Homo sapiens: one gene and its partners. Each later gene encodes a partner of the first gene's protein in a complex. Each region holds a gene or a part of one and is shown in the gene's direction. Other genes may lie near its edges.

Region 1 (8,014 bases):
GGTTACAAAGCGAATACCACAAAAGCTCAGAGTCTAGTGGAAGAGAGGCGACACTAAGAAAATACAGTAATTACCATTTGTTACAATATTAAAAGTGTGTCCAAGGTCCAGAGATAGCATGTAACACTAACGAATTCTGTGGGATGGTGGTGATGTCAATACCAAGAAAAGCTTTGCAGAGAGCTTGGGGTTTCAGCCAAGACTCCACAAAGGCATAGGGGCTTTGTGGGAGAATGGCAGTCCTCCTGGAGAAGTGGCAGATAAAAAGGTAAAGATCTGTGAGCAACGTCATCTTGAGTTCAGGAATTGACAATAGTTTGGTATTAGAAGAAGATAAGAGTGTCAAAAGGAGCATTTGTGTAATCTTTCACTCCAGAGATTTTAATCTCCTTAATAGAAAGTTGTTTGTATTGATTGAATGATTAACCTTTATTAAGAATTTTGTTGTGTCAGGCACTGGATTAGTAGCTTTACACATTTCATTTAAATCTCACATTTTGATAGCTTCTACTATGGTTATTATTTTACAGAAGAAACTGAAGTTAAGAGAAGTTAAGTAGCTTGTTGAAAATAGCCTGCCTGGCCAGGCAGGGTGGCTCATGACTGTAATTCCAACACTGGGAGGCCAAGGCAGGAGGATCACTTGAGCCCAAGAGTTTGAGACCACCCTGAGCAATATAGTGGAACCTTGTCTCTATGAAAAAAGTAAAAAAATAAATCGGGCATGGTGGCTCACACCTGTAGTCCCAGCTACTTGGGAGGCTGAGGTGGGAGGATCACTTGAGCCCTGGAGGTCAAGTTTGCAGTGAGCCGAGATTGTGCCACTGCACTCCAGCCTGGGCAACAGAGAGAGACCCTGTCTCAAAAATAATAATAATAATAATAGAAAAAAAAGAAAATAGCCTGGCTAATAAGAGCCAGAACCAGAATTTAGAGCCAGAATGACTGATATCGAAACCAGTAAAGTTGCTAATATTCCCAAATATTCCTAATGTCCTAATGTACCACAGAGCTGTCACTTAGGAATACACACAAGTCTCCAACTTAGGATGGTTTGACTCACAATTTTTCAACTTTATGATGGTGCAAAACCAACACTCATTCAGTAGAAACTGTACTTCCAGTACTCGTACAACCATTCTGGTTTTTTTTTCATTTTTAAATACAGTCATGTGTCCCATAATGATGTTTCAATGAAAGACCACATAAATGATGGTGAGCCCATGAGAGTATAATAAAACTGAAAAACTCCTATTGCCTAATGATGTAGCTGTCTTTATGTTGTAGTGCAATGTATCCTGGTGTACACAAACCTGCACTACCAGTTGTATAAAAGTATAGCACATACAATTATGTACAGTATAACATACTAAATAATGATAATAAATTACTTTGTTACTGGTTTATATATTTACTATACTATACATTTATTGTTATTTTAGATTGTACTCCTTCTACTTATTTTAAAAAAATGAAAGTTAACTGTAAAACAACCTCAGGCAGGTCTTTCAGAAGGTATTCCAGAAGAAGGCATTGTTATCCTAGGAGATGGCAGTTCCATGTGTGTTCTTGACCCTGAAGATCTTCCAGAGGGACAAGATGTGGAGGTGAAAGATGGTGATATTGATGATCCTGACCCTGCATAGGCCTGACCCAAACACACACGTGTGTGTTTGCATATTAGTTTTCAATAAAATAGTTTAAAAAGTAAAAAACAAAATAAAACATTTTAGAAATAGAAAAAAGCTTATAGAATAAAGATAGAAATAAAGAAAATAGGTCGGATGCAGTGGCTCATGCCTATAATCCCCACACTTTGGGAGGCCAGGAGTTTGACAGCAGCCTGGCCAACATGGCGAAACCCTGTCTCTACTAAAAATACAAAAATTAGCCAGGTGTTATGGTGTACACCTGTAATGCCAGCTACTCAGGAGGCTGAGGCACGAGAATTGCTTGAACCTGGGAGGCAGAGGTTGCAGTCAGCTGAGATAGCACCACTGCACTCTAGCCTGGGCAACAAAGCGAGACTGTCTCAAAAAAAAAAAAAGAAAAGAAAAGAAAGGAGGGAGGGAGGGAGGAAGGAAGGAAAAGAAAGAAAGAAAAAATATTTTTGTATGGCTGTACAATGTGCTTGTGTTTTAAGCTAAGTGTTATTACAAAGTCAAAAAGTTGAAAAAAAAAGGTTTGTACAGTAAAAAAGTTACAATAAGCTAATTTATTACTGAAGAAAGAAAAACGTGTTTATAAGTTTAGTATGGTCTAACTGTACAGTGTTTATAAAATCTATAGTAGCGTAATGTTCTAGGTGTTCACATTTACTCACCACTCACTGACTTATCCAGAGCAACTTTCAGTCCTGCAAGCTCCATTCATGGTAAGTGCCTTATACAGGTGTATCATTTTTACTCATTTACTGTACCTTTTCAATGTTTAGATACACCAATACTTACCATTGTGTTACAATTGCCTGTAATATTCAGTACAGTAACATGCTGAATAGGTTTGTAGCCTAGGAGCAATAGGCTATGCCAAATATCCTCAGTATGTAGTAGGCTATACTAGCTAGGTTTGTGTAAGTATAATCTATGATGTTCACACAACAAAATTGCCTGACACATTTCTCAAAACATATTCCCATTGTCAAACAACACATGACTGTACTGCACACCTTCCTGGAAGTAGAAAAATTTTTGACTAAAGTTTCATTTGGATTCCAGAAGAAATATGCTATAGTTTTGGATATACATTTTTTTTCCTGTCTGTTCACCCAAAGTGAGCCTCACTCATACAAAAACTGGGTGGTTCTGCCCTGGTGGAATATAGACCAAATGCCCATATGGGTGTAATATGTGACCGATACGGCCCATTCCTAGGTAATCAACATTATTTTCTCTTCCACCATTCCTTAACGTGCATCCTAAAGCCTCCACTACTGTCAAGCTAAATTTGATCCCCACCTTCTGCAAATTATGGCTCCCATATTTTTAGTGACTCCAGCACAATATTCCTTAACTGTAACGTTTCCTTTTCTTCAGTACAAAATATACCCCTCCTACCCCTTTCTCCAGATTTCCACTTCATATTGATCTTTTCCTCCACTGAAACCAGTGGCACTTAACTATTGCCTTAAATTGTAAACTATCTCTAAGGAAGCATATTTGTCTTCCCTACTAGTTCTAAACTCCTGGGAGCACAGATTTGATCTTGTACTTCCCTGTATTTCCATATTTCCACAAGGCTTAGGGATATAACCATGTACATTTTAGAAAATAGATAAATATTGCTGGGCGCAGTGGCTCACGCCTGCAATCCCAGCACTTTGGGAGGTCGAGGCTGGTGGATCACCGGAGGTCGGGAGTTCGAGACCAGCCTGACAAATATGGAGAAACCCCATCTCTACTAAAAATACAAAATTAGCCGGGTGTGGTGGCGCAAGCCTGTAATCCACCTACTCAGGAGGCTGAGGCAGGAGAATTGCTTGAACCCAGGAGGCGGAGGTTGTGGTGAGCCGATATTGAACCATTGCACTCCAGCCTGGGCAACAAGAGCGAAACTCCATCTCAAAAAAAAAAAAAAAAAAGAAAATAGATAAATATTTGTAGTTCTATGATTACTAAATATATCTACACTGACCTATATATACCTGTATAAAGATATATACCTGTACTATACTATATACCTATATTGTCCAGTATCATGTTGCCCACTGTCAAGAAACAAAATTTCATCAAATTTAGTTTAAAGTTCTTGGCCAGGCATGGTGGCTCACGCCTGTAATCCCAGCACTTTGGGAGGCCGAGGTGGGCAGATCACCTGAGGTCAGGAGTTTGAGACCAACCTGGCCAACACGGTGAAACCCTGTCTTTACTAAAAATACAAAAATTACCCGGGCATGGTGACACACTCCTGTAATCCCAGCTACTCGGGAGACTGAGACAGAAGAATTGCTTGAACCCGGGAGGCAGACGTCATAGTGAGCCAAGATTGTGCCACTGCACTCCAGGCTGGGCAACAGAGTTAGACTGTCCTCTGTCTCAAAAAAAAAAAAAAATCGAATTGGCTTTTATTAGTGATTCATGAATCAGGCAGCATCTCATCTATAAAACAGAAAAGTGTTCTAATGAGCTGAGCAGAAGGGGTTGGGCTTATAGGCAGAAAAGGGCTGAAGAAAGCAGAAATAAGGAACAAAAAGCAGATTGGTCATTTTGAAGTTACTTTCCTCAAAGAGTTACATCAGAGGGGACTTCTTTATCATGCCAGCTCAGGTATATGGGCCCCTTCTCCTATTTGTTGGAAAACTGACCCCTTTTAAAGCTGAGTTTAATTACGCAGCACCTAGGACAAGTTGCCTCCATTCTGGTTTTGTCTGCTCTCTTGAGGCCTAGTGCCAGAGTTCTGTCCAAAACAACGACCTCCCATAAACTTTATTTAACACCATTGATCTTTTTTCCTACGTCTAAGTCACCCCAACTGTTATAAATTCCTATTACAAAGGGATCCCTGCTATGCTAATTGCAACCTTTGGGGTCTAACCGTGCTGTACACACACACACACACACACACACACACACACACACATGCTCAACAAATTTATGCTATTTGATAAGAGGCAATTTGACGTCAAGAGAAGAACTGTTTGGCCTAGGCTCTATGCCAAGTCTTGGTTGTGCCACTAACCGTGAAACATACCCTCTCTGACCTTCAGTTTTCTGGCTGCAGACCTATTTTCCCAGGGGTGCCAGGGAGGGAGGATAGGCAACTGGTCCATTCGTTTATCCTCCCCACCTTCCCGGCGCAGCCTTCTCAGGGAAACTCCGCCTCAAGGCTGGGGACTGGAGGAAGGGTGGTGGGGCCACGGTGGCCATCTTTGTGCGGGGCGACCCGCCGCCCACGTGCTGCGGCTCCCGGGCCATCTTTGTGCGGGGCCGCGCTTCCGCCAGCGCCGCAGCGGGGAATCTGCAGTAGGTCTGCCGGCGATGGAGTGGTGGGCTAGCTCGCCGCTTCGGCTCTGGCTGCTGTTGTTCCTCCTGCCCTCAGCGCAGGGCCGCCAGAAGGAGTCAGGTGGGCTCCGGGCAGTGCCGAGCCTGCCCCTTGGGCTCGGGGTCTGGCCGGAGTCCCGAGGCGCTCCCCCGCGCGGCCGGCTCCCGGGAAGATGCCGTGGCCGCTGTAGCTCGGAGCTGGGCAGAAGGCACCGGGGCGCCTTGCGGCGGAGAGTGAGGTGCCGGGGTCTCTGCTCCTGCTCTGGACCCTGGAGAGTAACCCATTCCCCGGAATTCAGAATGACAGGGAGGAGAGGGAATTCCCCGTTCACCCGCAGGAGGCGTGGCCCGTGCTTGGCTACTCTGGACCTGCCTGAAACACTGAGGGGTCGGGGATGGGGGCAAATGTCGTGCGCGCGAGCGTGTGTGTATATGCGTTGCCAGAAGAGAAGAGGGGTTTAATGTCTGTAGCTTTTAACTGATCCTCTTTGTGGAGTTCAATTTGATTAGTAGAAAGTGAGAGTCCGCGTCACTATCCATAGCATTCTGAGGGTTGAGCATTAAGCTTGGGAATTTTCCAGTTTCTTGGACACCTGACAGCCGGATAGAGGAACAGACTTGACGTGAGCGTGGGAGTTGCACACACAAAAATTCCTCCCTAGCGTTTCGTTTCCATCAGTGGGATGGGAAGGGGATTTCTGAAAGTTTTGGTCTTCTGTTTCTTCTGTTGGTGTGGTGTCAGCAAATAACATTCAGGAAAATTTTTTTAACTCTCATTTACTTCACTTTTTAAAGGTTCAAAATGGAAAGTATTTATTGACCAAATTAACAGGTCTTTGGAGAATTACGAACCATGTTCAAGTCAAAACTGCAGCTGCTACCATGGGTGAGTTCTTTTCTTTGATGTGTCTTTGAGAGTTTAGTTGCTGTCACAGGAAGTATTCTAACATCCTTGAGAGATTTTGGTTGCAGTGGTCAGAAAGGCAAGGATGTTTTTCTATTTCTGGGGAATAAAAATGCTCTCGCATGGGAAAGGCTCAGGTGGTGTCAACCTAACCACTGACTCACTGCGGGATTCAGTGCATGTGCATCTGTTTTTCCCACTGGGCTGCAAGCTTCCTGAGGTCAGGGTCTGTGTCTTATTTGCTGTTGTCTCCCTGGTGCTAGCTGTCAGTGCGTGCTCGATAAATATTGTTGAGGAAATAAACCCATCTATCGCTGAATCTAGTCCTAAATTTCCTGATGGTTATCTTTAGAAAATGCACATCAGGCTGGGCATGGTGGTTCATGCCTGTAATCCCAGCACTTTGAGAGGCCAAGGCAGGTGGATCACCTGAGGTCAGAATTTCGAGACCAGCCTGGCCAACATGGTGAAACCCTGTCTCTACTAAAAATACAAAAATTAGCTGGGCATGATGGCACGTGCCTGTAATCCCAGCTACTCGGGAGGCTGAGGCAGGAGAATCGCTTGAACCCGGGAAGCAGAGGTTGCATTGAATCCAGATCATGCCACTGCACCCCAGCCTGGGTGACAGAGTGAGACTCCGTCTCAAAAAAGAGAGAGAATGCACATCAGGGCCGGGATGAGGTATGGTAGAAAGATAACTCTGAAAACAGACTTGGGTGTTGGTGCCGGTACTCCCACTGGTTACCCCTGTGCCGAGCCACTTCAACTCCTCTGGGTCTCAGATTCTTCATCAGCTAAATAACAGGGTCTTTTAAGCTCCTTTTTATGTTATTTTTGACTCCTCAAAAAATTCCTTGGATGCTTATGATACTTATTGAAAACTTACTATGCACTCACTTTAAAAGGAATACAAAATAGTGTAATTTTGGTTACTGCTGTCACGCTACCAGAGTAAGGGCTTGTGGGGGAGAGTGTGGACCAGACAGACCAGAACAAGAGAGTCAGTGCTAGACTGTAAGGCGTAAACTTCACCTCCTGTGGGATTGGGAGGAGATGCCAGGAGGACTGAAGTGACTAGAAGGACACAGGTGTGGCATGAGTAGCGAAAGAGAAATACAGAACTGCCAAGGGAGGGGCAATCCAGATGGAAGGAGGAAGAAGAGACATTGACCCGCTTTTTACTTTTTATTGCTTTATTGCATTTGATGTTTCAGATTACCTACAGGGCTTCTAGGGAAGAGCTGCTCATTCTCACTCTCGATTCTTTCCTTCCACTTACTGTGTTCTCTAATACGAAACCTAAATGCACTTAGGAAGTAGGTGGAATGGCACCACTCTCTTGGCCTGCTTTCCTTGATGACTCCCATTCTTTCCCAGTGTCATAGAAGAGGATCTAACTCCTTTCCGAGGAGGCATCTCCAGGAAGATGATGGCAGAGGTAGTCAGACGGAAGCTAGGGACCCACTATCAGATCACTAAGAACAGACTGTACCGGGAAAATGACTGCATGTTCCCCTCAAGGTAAGAGTTAACGAGGTAGATATATCTTCTGACTTTATTACATATGGGCTTGATACCCTTTTATAGAGGAGCCAATTCATGGGACTAACAAGCAGATCCCTCCTCACATTTCAGGCGGACTATGAAATAGTGACGAGCTCTTCTCCTTGCCTGGGAATTTTTCTTGCGAGCTCCTCTCAAAGCCTGTCTCCTCTGTGAGGCTTGGTTCATCACTGGTTGTACTGGTGGTGGCTCTGCCTCTTCTGCTCCTTCCCTGGGATATAGTAGCGGCAGGACACAGGCTGATGAGGCCTAGCAGGCCTAGCAGGAGGGAGCTAGGCTGAAGGAGGAAGAGGAATTGGTTGAATGTCTGTCATCGGCCAGTGTAGTTCTAGATACTGAATATTCAAGGGGAGGTGGTAGAGTCAAGAGGAGTAACTAGATGGGGTGGTGGTGGCTCACACCTGTGATCCCAGCACTTTGTGGTGGATTACTTGAGCCCAGGAGTTGGATTATGGCAAATAATCCGGCAGTGGCAAATAATACAACAGAGTGAGACCCTGTCTATTAAAAAATAAATAAATAAAGAGGAGTAACTAGTGCTGCAAATTACACTAGCCAGGACTTC
Region 2 (7,101 bases), on another chromosome or scaffold:
AACTGCATGCTTCTGGGGTCCTCTTTTTCCTGGGTGGATTTTGGGTGCCAGGTCTTGGGCAGGTCAGGAAGCAGTTGCCCGCCAGGAGTTTAAGCTGGATTCGGCTCTGTCCACTGAGCAGCCCAGGCGGACTTCAGCTGCCCCTTGGTGGCTGTGTGCACGGGGCCACCAAGTGCTGGGTGGTGCATCCACACCGTGGCCCCTTGAGCTTGGGGCTGCTGCCCCCCTCCCCCTGGGCTGCAGCTGGGGACCGGCCCTCCAGACTGAGCACCCGTCTCTGCCTCTGCAGATGGCTTCACCCCGCTCATGATCGCCTCCTGCAGCGGGGGCGGCCTGGAGACGGGCAACAGCGAGGAAGAGGAGGACGCGCCGGCCGTCATCTCCGACTTCATCTACCAGGGCGCCAGCCTGCACAACCAGACAGACCGCACGGGCGAGACCGCCTTGCACCTGGCCGCCCGCTACTCACGCTCTGATGCCGCCAAGCGCCTGCTGGAGGCCAGCGCAGATGCCAACATCCAGGACAACATGGGCCGCACCCCGCTGCATGCGGCTGTGTCTGCCGACGCACAAGGTGTCTTCCAGGTAGGCAGTGGCTGCCTGTGTGCCCACCTGCCCTCCTCAGGGCCGCCTGGTGGTCTGGGGCAGTGGCCAGGCTTACGTGGCCCTGGGAGCCTGACCCCGAGCACAGCTGAGTCCGGGACAACTGGTGCCTCCACCTGGGACCTTCGCAGTCAGCGAGGTGCGAGGGGGAGGGCGTCGGGCCCATCTGTGTTCTCCAGGGAAGTCAGGCAGAGGCGGGTCTGGCAGGAGGCCTGGGGGATCTGCTGAGTGAGGCAGCACCTCCCCACCCCCAGCAAAACAGGCTCCATCAGGGTTGTGGGCCTTGCTCAAGGTCCAGGTTCCACTGCTGCAGCCCCTCGCAGCCCCGCCCCTCCCTCAACCTTGGCTGCCGGCGTAGCCTGTGGCAGTGAGAAGCAGGGTTTAGAGGCTGCCGCTCGGTGCCTGCAGACCTAGGGCTCAGCTTGCCGGTGAGCTCGTGGCAAGAATGGATTTAGGGATTTGGATGCCTGGGTCTCCAGGGAGTGTCCCTGGCAGGGGCTGCCTTTGCAGTCACCCCTGCTGCGAGTCCCCAGGCTCCAGGCGGCCCTGGAGCAAGCAGGTTCAGATGGGCACAGCCCGGGGAGTTACCACAGAGCTTCTCATTTCCTGATTTCTTAGCTCAGGTGACACATTGTCATCTCGCAGAAATAAATGTAGGTGAGCAGAAAGAGCGTGGAAGGGAGCCCCGTGCGGGTTTGGTGTGTGCCTCTCTCAGCTGCCTTCTTTGCACAGATGTGGAAGTTCCCAGGTGCTTTGCAGGAATCAGGCCAAGTTGCCTTTTGCACCCGCCAGTGAGCAGGGGCCATTCCTCCTGCCAGATGCCAAGACCCGGCTGCATTACAAGGGCTGCCCACCCCCTCTCTGGGCAGAGCCGGACACTAGCTCGGCGGTTCTGAGACGGCTGTAGGGCCGTGAGCCCGGCTTCCTGAGTGCCAGCTGTAACCGCCGTTGGGGGCAGGGACTTGACCTCTCTGTTTTGTAGGTGGTCATGGCAGCTAGGACCACAGTGAGGATTAAATGAGGCCACACGTGGTCACGATGGATCCCACTGTCACCAAGGGGCCTGTCTGTGGGCAGCACAGCCCCTGCCCCCATCCGGGCCCCTCCTCAGGGGCAGCCCCATGGCGTTTCGTCTTGCCCGGCCGTGCCGATCTCAGGAGGGTCTCGTCTGTGTCCGGAAGACAGTGGGGCTTCCCGTCCAGGCGTTCGTTCTGGGCAGGAGGCATCGGTGTACGTCTGCCCAGCACCCGCCTGAGCCTCTCCCTGTTGCCCAGATCCTGATCCGGAACCGAGCCACAGACCTGGATGCCCGCATGCATGATGGCACGACGCCACTGATCCTGGCTGCCCGCCTGGCCGTGGAGGGCATGCTGGAGGACCTCATCAACTCACACGCCGACGTCAACGCCGTAGATGACCTGGGTGAGCCCACGGGGGCACGGCTGCTCTGTCGTGGGGCGGGACCGCCACAGGGACGGGTGGGACTGGGTTGCCTCCAGCTGGTCTCCAACCTACCCCATCTGCTTCTTTCACGCAGGCAAGTCCGCCCTGCACTGGGCCGCCGCCGTGAACAATGTGGATGCCGCAGTTGTGCTCCTGAAGAACGGGGCTAACAAAGATATGCAGAACAACAGGGTGAGCGCGAGGCTGGGATGCCAGGGGAGACGTGAGGGCTGAATCCACAGAGAAGTGAGGGCCAAACCCACGGGGCGCAGGGACACAAGGGCCTGACCCACAGGGTCTCGAGGGTCGCTGGGCCCGCATGTGGGCCCCACCCGCATGATGCGGGCACCTCGTTAGTGCTCCTGCCTTCCTTCAGCCCCCGTTTATGGAGCCCTTCCAAGTGCAGGTCCAGCTGTCAGGACACGGCGGCTCGCCCCTCAGACCCAGCCCTACCCTCCTGGGCGGCAGTCATGGCGGGGCACACAGCCTGGCGTGGGGAACGCTGCTGCTGCCACTGCTGTGTCACCGTCACCTGGACCTCACCTTCTGTCCCCAGCTGTCACCAGGCGGGGGTGGGGATGGGAATGTGGTGACGCAGGTGGTGCAGATTGAGCCAGAACACGCGTGGCGGCAGCTCCCTGCGGGGCGGGGCCTCTTGGTGTGTTCACCAAGGCCAAGGACCTCAAGGCTCAGAGGAAGAAGTCTCAGGACTATATCCAAGGGGAGCCACCCCCAGCCCTCATCCTGGCCCTGCAGCTCCTGGCCCTGCAGCTGCTGTTGGTTTCCCCTGGGTGCTCAGGGCACAGGTGCAGACACCCCCACCTCCCTGCCGCCAGAACCCCCACCCCCGCCCCCAACTCCTGCTGCCCCCTTGGCATGTCAGGCTCAGGCGTCTCTCCCTCCTGGGTGAGGGCACACAGCGGGCCTGGGCACCGGGGCATGTTGGCCCAGGCGCTCCCCAGTCCGTGGCAGCATGGCCCCACAGAGACTGGGCCCCAGAGGGCATCAAGGCCTGGGAAGCCCCTTCCCACTCCCACACAGCAGCCTCACCCAGACCTGTGACGTGTCCACCGCACAGAGGAGACCCCAGGAAGGAGCTTGGTGGCCACCAGGGTGGCTTGATGGCCGTCCAGATGACGAGCTCCCTCCCTGGTGCCCTCGCCGGTGCCTCTGAACCGCTCCAGGAATTTCCTTTTGTGCCTTATTGGGGGCAGGGAAGAGGGCCTGCAGTTGGTTAGATTTTCAGTGGGGTCTGTGACCCCCCCATAGAGGTGGAGCCCCGCTGATCTAGGGTAGAGGACTGCACAGATCCCCTCTCTGGGTGGGTTTCAGAAGATGTATCAAAGCCTTAACATTTAACAAGAGTCAGGCTAGGTGGTTGCAGGACGCTGGGGTGGGGTCCTGAGGAGCAGCCTGCCTGCCCCCACCCCGCGGAGGAGGTTGTACTGCTGCTTCCTCTGGTGATGGAACCTTGGGGAGGGTCCCCACGCCTGGCCTGGCCCCCCTCACCGGCCCCCGCCCTCATCCCCCAGGAGGAGACACCCCTGTTTCTGGCCGCCCGGGAGGGCAGCTACGAGACCGCCAAGGTGCTGCTGGACCACTTTGCCAACCGGGACATCACGGATCATATGGACCGCCTGCCGCGCGACATCGCACAGGAGCGCATGCATCACGACATCGTGAGGCTGCTGGACGAGTACAACCTGGTGCGCAGCCCGCAGCTGCACGGAGCCCCGCTGGGGGGCACGCCCACCCTGTCGCCCCCGCTCTGCTCGCCCAACGGCTACCTGGGCAGCCTCAAGCCCGGCGTGCAGGGCAAGAAGGTCCGCAAGCCCAGCAGCAAAGGCCTGGCCTGTGGAAGCAAGGAGGCCAAGGACCTCAAGGCACGGAGGAAGAAGTCCCAGGACGGCAAGGGCTGCCTGCTGGACAGCTCCGGCATGCTCTCGCCCGTGGACTCCCTGGAGTCACCCCATGGCTACCTGTCAGACGTGGCCTCGCCGCCACTGCTGCCCTCCCCGTTCCAGCAGTCTCCGTCCGTGCCCCTCAACCACCTGCCTGGGATGCCCGACACCCACCTGGGCATCGGGCACCTGAACGTGGCGGCCAAGCCCGAGATGGCGGCGCTGGGTGGGGGCGGCCGGCTGGCCTTTGAGACTGGCCCACCTCGTCTCTCCCACCTGCCTGTGGCCTCTGGCACCAGCACCGTCCTGGGCTCCAGCAGCGGAGGGGCCCTGAATTTCACTGTGGGCGGGTCCACCAGTTTGAATGGTCAATGCGAGTGGCTGTCCCGGCTGCAGAGCGGCATGGTGCCGAACCAATACAACCCTCTGCGGGGGAGTGTGGCACCAGGCCCCCTGAGCACACAGGCCCCCTCCCTGCAGCATGGCATGGTAGGCCCGCTGCACAGTAGCCTTGCTGCCAGCGCCCTGTCCCAGATGATGAGCTACCAGGGCCTGCCCAGCACCCGGCTGGCCACCCAGCCTCACCTGGTGCAGACCCAGCAGGTGCAGCCACAAAACTTACAGATGCAGCAGCAGAACCTGCAGCCAGCAAACATCCAGCAGCAGCAAAGCCTGCAGCCGCCACCACCACCACCACAGCCGCACCTTGGCGTGAGCTCAGCAGCCAGCGGCCACCTGGGCCGGAGCTTCCTGAGTGGAGAGCCGAGCCAGGCAGACGTGCAGCCACTGGGCCCCAGCAGCCTGGCGGTGCACACTATTCTGCCCCAGGAGAGCCCCGCCCTGCCCACGTCGCTGCCATCCTCGCTGGTCCCACCCGTGACCGCAGCCCAGTTCCTGACGCCCCCCTCGCAGCACAGCTACTCCTCGCCTGTGGACAACACCCCCAGCCACCAGCTACAGGTGCCTGAGCACCCCTTCCTCACCCCGTCCCCTGAGTCCCCTGACCAGTGGTCCAGCTCGTCCCCGCATTCCAACGTCTCCGACTGGTCCGAGGGCGTCTCCAGCCCTCCCACCAGCATGCAGTCCCAGATCGCCCGCATTCCGGAGGCCTTCAAGTAAACGGCGCGCCCCACGAGACCCCGGCTTCCTTTCCCAAGCCTTCGGGCGTCTGTGTGCGCTCTGTGGATGCCAGGGCCGACCAGAGGAGCCTTTTTAAAACACATGTTTTTATACAAAATAAGAACGAGGATTTTAATTTTTTTTAGTATTTATTTATGTACTTTTATTTTACACAGAAACACTGCCTTTTTATTTATATGTACTGTTTTATCTGGCCCCAGGTAGAAACTTTTATCTATTCTGAGAAAACAAGCAAGTTCTGAGAGCCAGGGTTTTCCTACGTAGGATGAAAAGATTCTTCTGTGTTTATAAAATATAAACAAAGATTCATGATTTATAAATGCCATTTATTTATTGATTCCTTTTTTCAAAATCCAAAAAGAAATGATGTTGGAGAAGGGAAGTTGAACGAGCATAGTCCAAAAAGCTCCTGGGGCGTCCAGGCCGCGCCCTTTCCCCGACGCCCACCCAACCCCAAGCCAGCCCGGCCGCTCCACCAGCATCACCTGCCTGTTAGGAGAAGCTGCATCCAGAGGCAAACGGAGGCAAAGCTGGCTCACCTTCCGCACGCGGATTAATTTGCATCTGAAATAGGAAACAAGTGAAAGCATATGGGTTAGATGTTGCCATGTGTTTTAGATGGTTTCTTGCAAGCATGCTTGTGAAAATGTGTTCTCGGAGTGTGTATGCCAAGAGTGCACCCATGGTACCAATCATGAATCTTTGTTTCAGGTTCAGTATTATGTAGTTGTTCGTTGGTTATACAAGTTCTTGGTCCCTCCAGAACCACCCCGGCCCCCTGCCCGTTCTTGAAATGTAGGCATCATGCATGTCAAACATGAGATGTGTGGACTGTGGCACTTGCCTGGGTCACACACGGAGGCATCCTACCCTTTTCTGGGGAAAGACACTGCCTGGGCTGACCCCGGTGGCGGCCCCAGCACCTCAGCCTGCACAGTGTCCCCCAGGTTCCGAAGAAGATGCTCCAGCAACACAGCCTGGGCCCCAGCTCGCGGGACCCGACCCCCCGTGGGCTCCCGTGTTTTGTAGGAGACTTGCCAGAGCCGGGCACATTGAGCTGTGCAACGCCGTGGGCTGCGTCCTTTGGTCCTGTCCCCGCAGCCCTGGCAGGGGGCATGCGGTCGGGCAGGGGCTGGAGGGAGGCGGGGGCTGCCCTTGGGCCACCCCTCCTAGTTTGGGAGGAGCAGATTTTTGCAATACCAAGTATAGCCTATGGCAGAAAAAATGTCTGTAAATATGTTTTTAAAGGTGGATTTTGTTTAAAAAATCTTAATGAATGAGTCTGTTGTGTGTCATGCCAGTGAGGGACGTCAGACTTGGCTCAGCTCGGGGAGCCTTAGCCGCCCATGCACTGGGGACGCTCCGCTGCCGTGCCGCCTGCACTCCTCAGGGCAGCCTCCCCCGGCTCTACGGGGGCCGCGTGGTGCCATCCCCAGGGGGCATGACCAGATGCGTCCCAAGATGTTGATTTTTACTGTGTTTTATAAAATAGAGTGTAGTTTACAGAAAAAGACTTTAAAAGTGATCTACATGAGGAACTGTAGATGATGTATTTTTTTCATCTTTTTTGTTAACTGATTTGCAATAAAAATGATACTGATGGTGATCTGGCTTCCACTCCCCTCTGCTCTGGCCTTTGGCTCCCTTTCTGGGAGGGAGGCAGGGCTGCTATGCTCTGAGGGAGCCAGGAGTCGAGGGCCCCTTCTGCTGGGAGAGTGACGGTGAGGCTGCCTAGTCCTGGCCCACGGGGGTGTGGGGACCACGCTGCCTCCAGGGACTCCATGGTGTCTGCAGCCTGCCTGGTCCAGGCCCTTTGTAGGGAGATGGACACACAGCAGCAAGGGGGTTGCAGCCCTATGGGAGGTGGGGCTCGTGCCTGGGGTGACACGGCTCCCAGGACACCATGCGTGAGTCTGGCCCTCCTGGCAGCTCGGGGCTCTTCTCCTCTCAGCCTCGGAGGGATGAAGGTCCCACCCAGCCATCCTGGGGACAGCCCCTCAGGGAGCTCTGCAGC
Region 3 (7,101 bases), on another chromosome or scaffold:
TGAGTGTCCCGGGGGTGTGGGTGTCCCGGGGGTCGTGGGTGTCCCGGGAGTGTGGGTGTTCCAGAGGCGAGGGTGTCCCGGGAGTGTGGGTGTCCCAGGGGTGTGGGTGTCCCGGGGGCGTGGGTGTCCCGGGAGTGTGGGTGTCCCGGGGGAGTGGGTGTCCCGGGAGTGTGGGTGTTCCGGAGGCGAGGGTGTCCCGGGAGTGTGGGTGTTCCGGAGGCGAGGGTGTCCCGGGAGCGTGGGTGTCCCGGGGGCGTGGGTGTCCCGGGAGCGTGGGTGTCCCAGGGGTGTGGGTGTCCCGGGGGCGTGGGTGTCCCGGGAGTGTGGGTGTCCCGGGGGAGTGGATGTCCCGGGAGTGTGGGTGTTCCGGAGGCGAGGGTGTCCCGGGAGTGTGGGTGTTCCGGAGGCGAGGGTGTCCCGGGAGTGTGGGTGTCCCGGGGGCGTGGGTGTCCCGGGAGTGTGGGTGTCCCGGGGGCGTGGGTATCCCAGAAGTGTGAGTGTCCCAGGGGCGTGGGTGTCCGGGGGGCGTGGGTGTCCCGGGGGTGTGGGTGTCCCGGGGGTCGTGGGTGTCCCGGGAGCGTGGGTGTCGGGGACTGCAGGGACATGGGCCTCCCCTCCCACTCCTGCCGCCCAGGGCACCTCCTGTGAGGACTCGGAGTCCGTGAGTTCCCACCTCCTTGAGCCCGATTCTTTGGTGTCCCCGCCTGCATCCTCAGCCTCCTTCCAAACCAGACCAGTTCTCTAGGGGCGTCGACGTGTGAAACTGATTTTAAAGAAAACAGGCAGTGGCCTTTCTCTCGGCCCCACGTGGCCCAGTAGCGCTCACCTTCCGTCCCTTCTTCCGCGCTCAGTAACCAATTTAGGCCGCTCCTGCAGAACTCGGGCTCCTGCCCACCGGCCCACAGCGTCCACCTGAGGCCTCGTCCTCCCAGCAAAGGTCGTCCCTCCGGAACGCGCCTCCTGCGGCCTCTCCAGAGCCCCTCCCGCGCGTCCTCTCAGCCCCGCTCGCCTCCTCCCGGGGCCTCCCTCTCCCGCCTGCCCCCAGGCCCGTCTCCCCTCGCGGGCTGAGGCAGGTTCGGGCAGCACGGCCGCCCCGGGGCGGGGGTCACTCTCCACCACCGCGTGGTGCCCACAGCTCACGGCGCTCCCGGGTGACGGTCCCCTCGGCTGTAGGGCGTCCTGAAGAGCGGCCTGCTCGGAGCTGAGCGCACGGGGTTGCCTCGCCCTGGGCGTCTCTGGCCCTCACCAGCCCCGTCTTCCCATGGGCAAAACGGCGGTCCTGTTTGTCCACAAGTAACCGTCGGGGTTACGGAGGGGCCAGGAGCTGCGGCGGGGGGCTGTGCTCTCAGGACCGGCCCCAGGAGGATCCGCGCGAGGTCTGGAGCTCTCAGGGGTCGCGGGGGACAGAGGGGCCCCAAGCGGAGGCGGGGAAGGCGGCAGAAGCCCAGGACCGCCAAGAGCTGGCGAGGAAGCCCGGGGCTCGCTGTCGGGGGAGCCGGGCAGGGGCCGCGCCTCGGACCAGGACGGAGGCCTGGGGAAGGCGGATCTGGCCGCCGGAGACGCGGTGCGGGTGGAGACGAGGGATTTGGATTTCCGCGGGCGGCTGTACGGATTTCCACGCGCGGTTCACGTGGGCCCCAGGGGGTTGCCCGGCACCCGGGGCCGCGCCGCCTTCTCCTCGCCGGCATCGACCCGCAGCCTCACGTTTACGCGGCGGCGCCCGCAGCCCCCTTCGGCCCGGCTTCCGCGCGTGCCCCCGAGCGCGCCCTCGGGATCAGCCCCCGGAAGCAGAGAGGCCAGGCCGGGAAGGATGGGCGACGGGGGTGGCTGACCCGGGAGCACGGCAGGGAGGACACCCAGCCAGGCCCGCGAGCAGCGCCGCTCCCCTCCTCCAGGACGGGCGGGAACCTGCGATGCCCCCGCCGCGTGGGCCGTGGGGCGGTCTCCGAGGCACTGGGCGGGGCACGCGGTGGGCGCTTCACGGAACTCGCATTTCCCAGTCTTCGTAACCCAGGAGGAAGCCCACGGCGTCCTGCACCGGCGCCGGCGCGCCAACGCGTTCCTGGAGGAGCTGCGGCCGGGCTCCCTGGAGAGGGAGTGCAAGGAGGAGCAGTGCTCCTTCGAGGAGGCCCGGGAGATCTTCAAGGACGCGGAGAGGACGGTGAGCCCAGCCTCGGGGCGCCCCGCGCCGCGGACACTGCAGGCGGCGGTGAACCAGGCCGCGTGGGGCCGCCTGCGTCTCTTTGGCTGCGGCTGTGGGCGGCGAACACGCAGCGGCGCCCGCGCGGCGCTTTCTGCGGGGGTCGCTTTCCGCCCGGGGTGACTCCGCTTTCCTGGGCGATGCCCCCCACCCCCAGGCACGCGCTCTCCCCGTGCGGCCGCACCGCGCATGCCGGTTTTCACATCAGAAAATACGATTTGCAAAGCACACTTAGGGTGTCCCCCTTAACTTCCCAAGGGAGTCCCCCCAGTCCCCGAAGGGTCCAGGGCAGCCTGCGCATCGCAGACGCGCGCGGCTCGCAGAAGGGACGTGGTGAGAAGCTGGCCCACAGCATGCCACCAGCGGCACCTCCTCAGGGCACGTGTCGGGGAGAAACAACACTTAGGGACCTGGGACTTTCTCCAGCTCACGCTCACGGGTCACCTCACACTCCAAGATCACCTCAAAGAGGACACCTCACACAGGGCACACTTCACACTCACAGGTCACCTCACACTCACAGGACACCTCACACTCACAGGGCACACTTCACACTCACGGGTCACCTCACACTCCAAGATCACCTCAAAGAGGACACCTCACACAGGGCACACTTCACACTCACAGGTCACCTCACACTCACAGGACACCTCACACTCACAGGGCACACTTCACACTCACGGGTCACCTCACACTCCAAGATCACCTCAAAGAGGACACCTCACACAGGGCACACTTCACACTCACGGGTCACCTCACACTCACAGGACACCTCACACAAGACACCTCACACGGGGCACACTTCACACTCACAGGTCACCTCACACCCACAGGACACCTCACACAGGGCACACTTCACACTCACGGGTCACCTCACACTCACAGGACACCTCACACAAGACACCTCACACGGGGCACACTTCACACTCACAGGTCACCTCACACCCACAGGACACCTCACACAGGGCACACTTCACACTCACGGGTCACCTCACACTCACAGGACACCTCACACTCAGGGCGCACTTCACACTCACGGGTCACCTCACACCCACAGGACACCTCACAGAGGTCACCTCACACAGGACACCTCACACTCAGGGTGCACTTCAAACCCACAGGTCATTTCACCTCACACTCACAGGACACCTCACACAAGATACCACACGGGGCACACTTCACACTCACAGGTCACCTCACACTCACAGGACACCTCACAGAGGTCACCTCACACGGGGCACACTTCACACTCACAGGTCACCTCACACCCACAGGACACCTCACAGAGGTCACCTCACACCCACAGGACACCTCACACAGGACACCTCACAGAGGTCACCTCACACCCACAGGACACCTCACACTCATAGGTCACCTCAGTCTTACAGGACAACTCACACTCACAGGTCACCTTACTCTCACAGGACACCTCACACTCACAGGTCACCTTACTCTCACAGGACACCTCACTCTCACAGGACACCTCACACAGGGCACACTTCACTCCCACAGGTCACCATACCTCACACAGATCACCTCATACTCACAGATCACTTCATTCTCACAGGATACCTCACACTCAGGGCACACTTCACACTCACAGGTCACACCTCACACAGATCATCTCATTCTCACAGGACACCTCCCTCTCACAGGTCACCTCACACTCACAGGACACCTCACAGAGGTCACCTCACACCCACAGGACACCTCACAGAGGTCACCTCACACGGGGCACACTTCACACTCAGGTCACCTCACACCCACAGGACACCTCACAGAGGTCACCTCACACCCACAGGACAACTCACAGAGGTCACCTCACACAGGACACCTCACAAAGGTCACCTCACACCCACAGGACACCTCACACTCATAGGTCACCTCAGTCTTACAGGACAACTCACACTCACAGGTCACCTTACTCTCACAGGACACCTCACACTCACAGGTCACCTTACTCTCACAGGACACCTCACACAGGGCACACTTCACTCCCACAGGTCACCATACCTCACACAGATCACCTCATACTCACAGATCACTTCATTCTCACAGGATACCTCACACTCAGGGCACACTTCACACTCACAGGTCACACCTCACACAGATCATCTCATTCTCACAGGACACCTCCCTCTCACAGGTCACCTTACACTCATCTCACACTCACAGGTCGCCACACCTCACACTCACAGGATGCCTCACACTCACAGAACCACATCTCATATGCACAAGACACCTCACACTCAGGACACCTCATGCTCAAAGAAGCCTCACACTCACAGGAGGTCCAGCTGTCTGAGGCAAAGGCTAACATGACCCTTTCCAGACAAATTGAGGATGGTCATGCCTAGCATTTTTATACACCTAGTTTTGAAAGCATTTCTCATCTGTTGTATTCTCACAGCACCCCGTGAGTTTAAGTTCAGGTGGCCAACAGTTTCTTCAGCAATCACTTTTTTCTGTGGAGTGCTTTTGCTGTTTGTGGAATATTTTGCATCTGCTACTGCACCCTCTCCCCGTATGTGTGGCCACCCTGTCAGAGGTGGAGCTGTGGCTCAGAGCCTGTGTACCTCGTCCCAGGTCCACAGCTCAGCGACAGAAGAGTCAGGGTTGAACCTCGGGTGTTCTGACTTGGGAGCAGGAAATGTGTGGTCACCCATAGTTCCAGATGTCCTGGGGAGGGGCCAAGATTAGAAGAAACCTACCTCAGCTCCAGAGGAAAGTCTGGCTTCCTGAGCCCACCCCGCCAGACCCAGGTCCAAGTCCCCCAACCCCAGTTCATGGTGTGTCCAGTGCTTACCGTTGGGTGCTCTGGTGAAGGTGCATCTCACGAGGCTTGCTCTCTTGTTCCTTCAGAAGCTGTTCTGGATTTCTTACAGTGGTGAGTGGATGATCACCACCAGTCCTGCCTGCAACCCTTCTCAGCTTACTGACACCAGCCCACTCCACAGATGGGGACCAGTGTGCCTCAAGTCCATGCCAGAATGGGGGCTCCTGCAAGGACCAGCTCCAGTCCTATATCTGCTTCTGCCTCCCTGCCTTCGAGGGCCGGAACTGTGAGACGCGTAAGGCCCCACTTTGGGTCCCATATTTGCAGAGGGCCCTGGGGAGCTGGTGGAGGTGGCCTGGCCAACCGGGCTGCAGGGTGCACAACCTGGTGGGGTGTGTAGGCCGGGCATTCAGGGCTCAGCCCCAGTTGGAAATTGGTCTAGGTGACCTTGAAATCCCTTCCAGTCTGAGGTCTTTGACAGGGACCCAAGGTTCTGATTATCAGACTCAGTGGCCCCTTGGGCTCCCGGCCCTGGGCAATTCTCAGCCCTCGAGATGGCCCAGCTGAGAGTCCCTGTGTCCCTGTCCCACTTCCACATCCCACCACGCAGGACCGCTTGGTAAACTTCCCCTTCTCTACTTTCCATTACAAAGGTTTGAGGGGTTTGTTTTTTTTTTAACCATCTGAATATTAAATTATCACAAAGTTTGAGGCCCCCAACCTCCCTTGGGTTCAGTAATTCACTAGAAGGACTCATAGAATCCACTGAAGTGGATACACTCACAGGTACCGTTTATTACAGCAAAGGATGCAGGCTTAAGTCTGCAGAGGGACCAGGCACAAGCTTCCCCTTGTCCTCTCCCTGTGGGGTCATGTGGACAGTCCTTAATTCTCCCAGAATGACGTGTGACGAGACGTGGGAAGTACTGCCAACTTGGGAAGCTCTACGAGCCCCGGTGTCCAGAGGTTTTATCAGGGCTCAATCACATAGACCCAGCTGACCACCCGCATGGCTGACCTCAGTCTCAGCCCCTCCAGAGGCTACGCCGATAGTGCGGCCCAAGGCCCCACCATACATCACATTGTCAGCTAGACCATCCAGCATGGCTCAAGGCCCAGGTAAACACCAACATTCCCTCAGGCAAGACCTTCCAAGGGCTTAGCGGTCATTTCCCAGGAGCCAAGGCAAAGGCTACCCTTTCTCTGGCACAGCAGTTCATCCTTGACCACCCAAGACCACATTCTTACACTGAATGAGCTCTCCTGTGCAGCAGCCATTTTCTTCTCTAAGCAGAAGAGAGCCCAGCAAGCTGGAGGAGGCTGAAGAGAGAGGCTTCCTGCTGGTCATCTGGGTCCAGAATGCCTGGAGATCTCTGCTCAGCCCTGGTGCCCAGCAGCCCTGGTGTGCATCCTGCAGGGCAGGCCTTCCCGCCGGAGTCCTGGACTTGCTCAGGGCCACTCCCCTTGCCCATGTCAACCAAAGTCAGGCTGCCGGTTCTGCTTCTTCTGTCTGAGCCCATGACCAGTGCTGGGACTAACTGTCCCCAGGCGGGCTCACGGTGGTACGAGGCCAGCTTGGAGAACTGTCTCAGCTCTCTGGTCCTCTCGTCAGTTGGGTCTCTGATTGGAAAGTCCCTTGGACACTTTTACCATCCCCATTGGACTTTCACTTTCCCCCAGGCTCCCATCAGCTGCTCGGAAGAGTGGTCACCCTGGAGGCCACTGCCCACCAGCCAGGCACCCCCCAAATGCAACCGCAGCCAGCACTGCCAGCCACTGGCAAGGCTGTTCAGACATGTGGCTCCTCTGATCCACGCCTTGTCCTTTGGATCAGTCCACGGAGCAGGTGGTGCCAAGCTCAGGCTCTGTCACCCACAGCTCAGTGCCACCTTCCAGGCAGAACACCACTGCTGACCCAGGGCATGGCCACCCCGGGGGCTGGCTCTCGCTGACCCCCAGAAGCCCCTCTCAGGGTGTCCCCTTCCTGTCCCCAGACAAGGATGACCAGCTGATCTGTGTGAACGAGAACGGCGGCTGTGAGCAGTACTGCAGTGACCACACGGGCACCAAGCGCTCCTGTCGGTGCCACGAGGGGTACTCTCTGCTGGCAGACGGGGTGTCCTGC

The links.
Region 2: the proteins of POGLUT1 (region 1) and NOTCH1 are in contact, whole or in part, in a crystal structure (PDB 5UB5), measured with the Homo sapiens proteins. Residues at the interface, in NP_689518.1 of Homo sapiens: Met103 (codon at 7,394), Phe104 (codon at 7,397), Pro105 (codon at 7,400), Ser106 (codon at 7,403), Arg107, Asp133, Gly170, Pro171, Ala172, Val173, Trp174, Pro178, Thr179, Gly180, Thr214, Asn239, Gln240, Ala241, Val274; in NP_060087.3 of Homo sapiens: Asn454, Glu455, Cys456, Val457, Asn459, Pro460, Cys461, Gln462, Asn463, Asp464, Ala465, Cys467, Gly472, Glu473, Phe474, Val485, His486.
Region 3: the proteins of POGLUT1 (region 1) and F7 are in contact, whole or in part, in a crystal structure (PDB 5L0S), measured with the Homo sapiens proteins. Residues at the interface, in NP_689518.1 of Homo sapiens: Met103 (codon at 7,394), Phe104 (codon at 7,397), Pro105 (codon at 7,400), Ser106 (codon at 7,403), Arg107, Arg132, Asp133, Pro171, Ala172, Trp174, Pro178, Thr179, Thr214, Asn239, Gln240, Ala241, Val274; in NP_000122.1 of Homo sapiens: Asp108, Gln109, Cys110, Ala111, Ser112, Ser113, Pro114, Cys115, Gln116, Asn117, Gly118, Gly119, Cys121, Gln126, Ser127, Tyr128, Arg139, Asn140.

Annotation. Positions count from the first base shown.
Region 1 is NC_000003.12:119,464,046-119,472,059, forward strand, and holds the start of POGLUT1 (protein O-glucosyltransferase 1 precursor), read left to right. Parts: upstream 1-4,917; 5' UTR 4,918-4,976; coding exon 4,977-5,061; intron 5,062-5,774; coding exon 5,775-5,865; intron 5,866-7,263; coding exon 7,264-7,407; intron 7,408-8,014. UniProt on the Homo sapiens protein: Dual specificity glycosyltransferase that catalyzes the transfer of glucose and xylose from UDP-glucose and UDP-xylose, respectively, to a serine residue found in the consensus sequence of C-X-S-X-P-C.
Region 2 is NC_000009.12:136,494,036-136,501,136, reverse strand, and holds the end of NOTCH1 (neurogenic locus notch homolog protein 1 preproprotein), read left to right. Parts: intron 1-289; coding exon 290-585; intron 586-1,877; coding exon 1,878-2,025; intron 2,026-2,140; coding exon 2,141-2,238; intron 2,239-3,578; coding exon 3,579-5,066; 3' UTR 5,067-6,704; downstream 6,705-7,101. UniProt on the Homo sapiens protein: Functions as a receptor for membrane-bound ligands Jagged-1 (JAG1), Jagged-2 (JAG2) and Delta-1 (DLL1) to regulate cell-fate determination.
Region 3 is NC_000013.11:113,108,690-113,115,790, forward strand, and holds part of F7 (coagulation factor VII isoform b precursor), read left to right. Parts: intron 1-2,000; coding exon 2,001-2,161; intron 2,162-5,062; coding exon 5,063-5,087; exon of another isoform or gene 5,088-5,157; coding exon 5,158-5,271; intron 5,272-5,312; exon of another isoform or gene 5,313-6,079; coding exon of another isoform or gene 6,080-6,095; intron 6,096-6,270; coding exon of another isoform or gene 6,271-6,378; intron 6,379-6,970; coding exon 6,971-7,101. UniProt on the Homo sapiens protein: Initiates the extrinsic pathway of blood coagulation. Serine protease that circulates in the blood in a zymogen form. Factor VII is converted to factor VIIa by factor Xa, factor XIIa, factor IXa, or thrombin by minor proteolysis.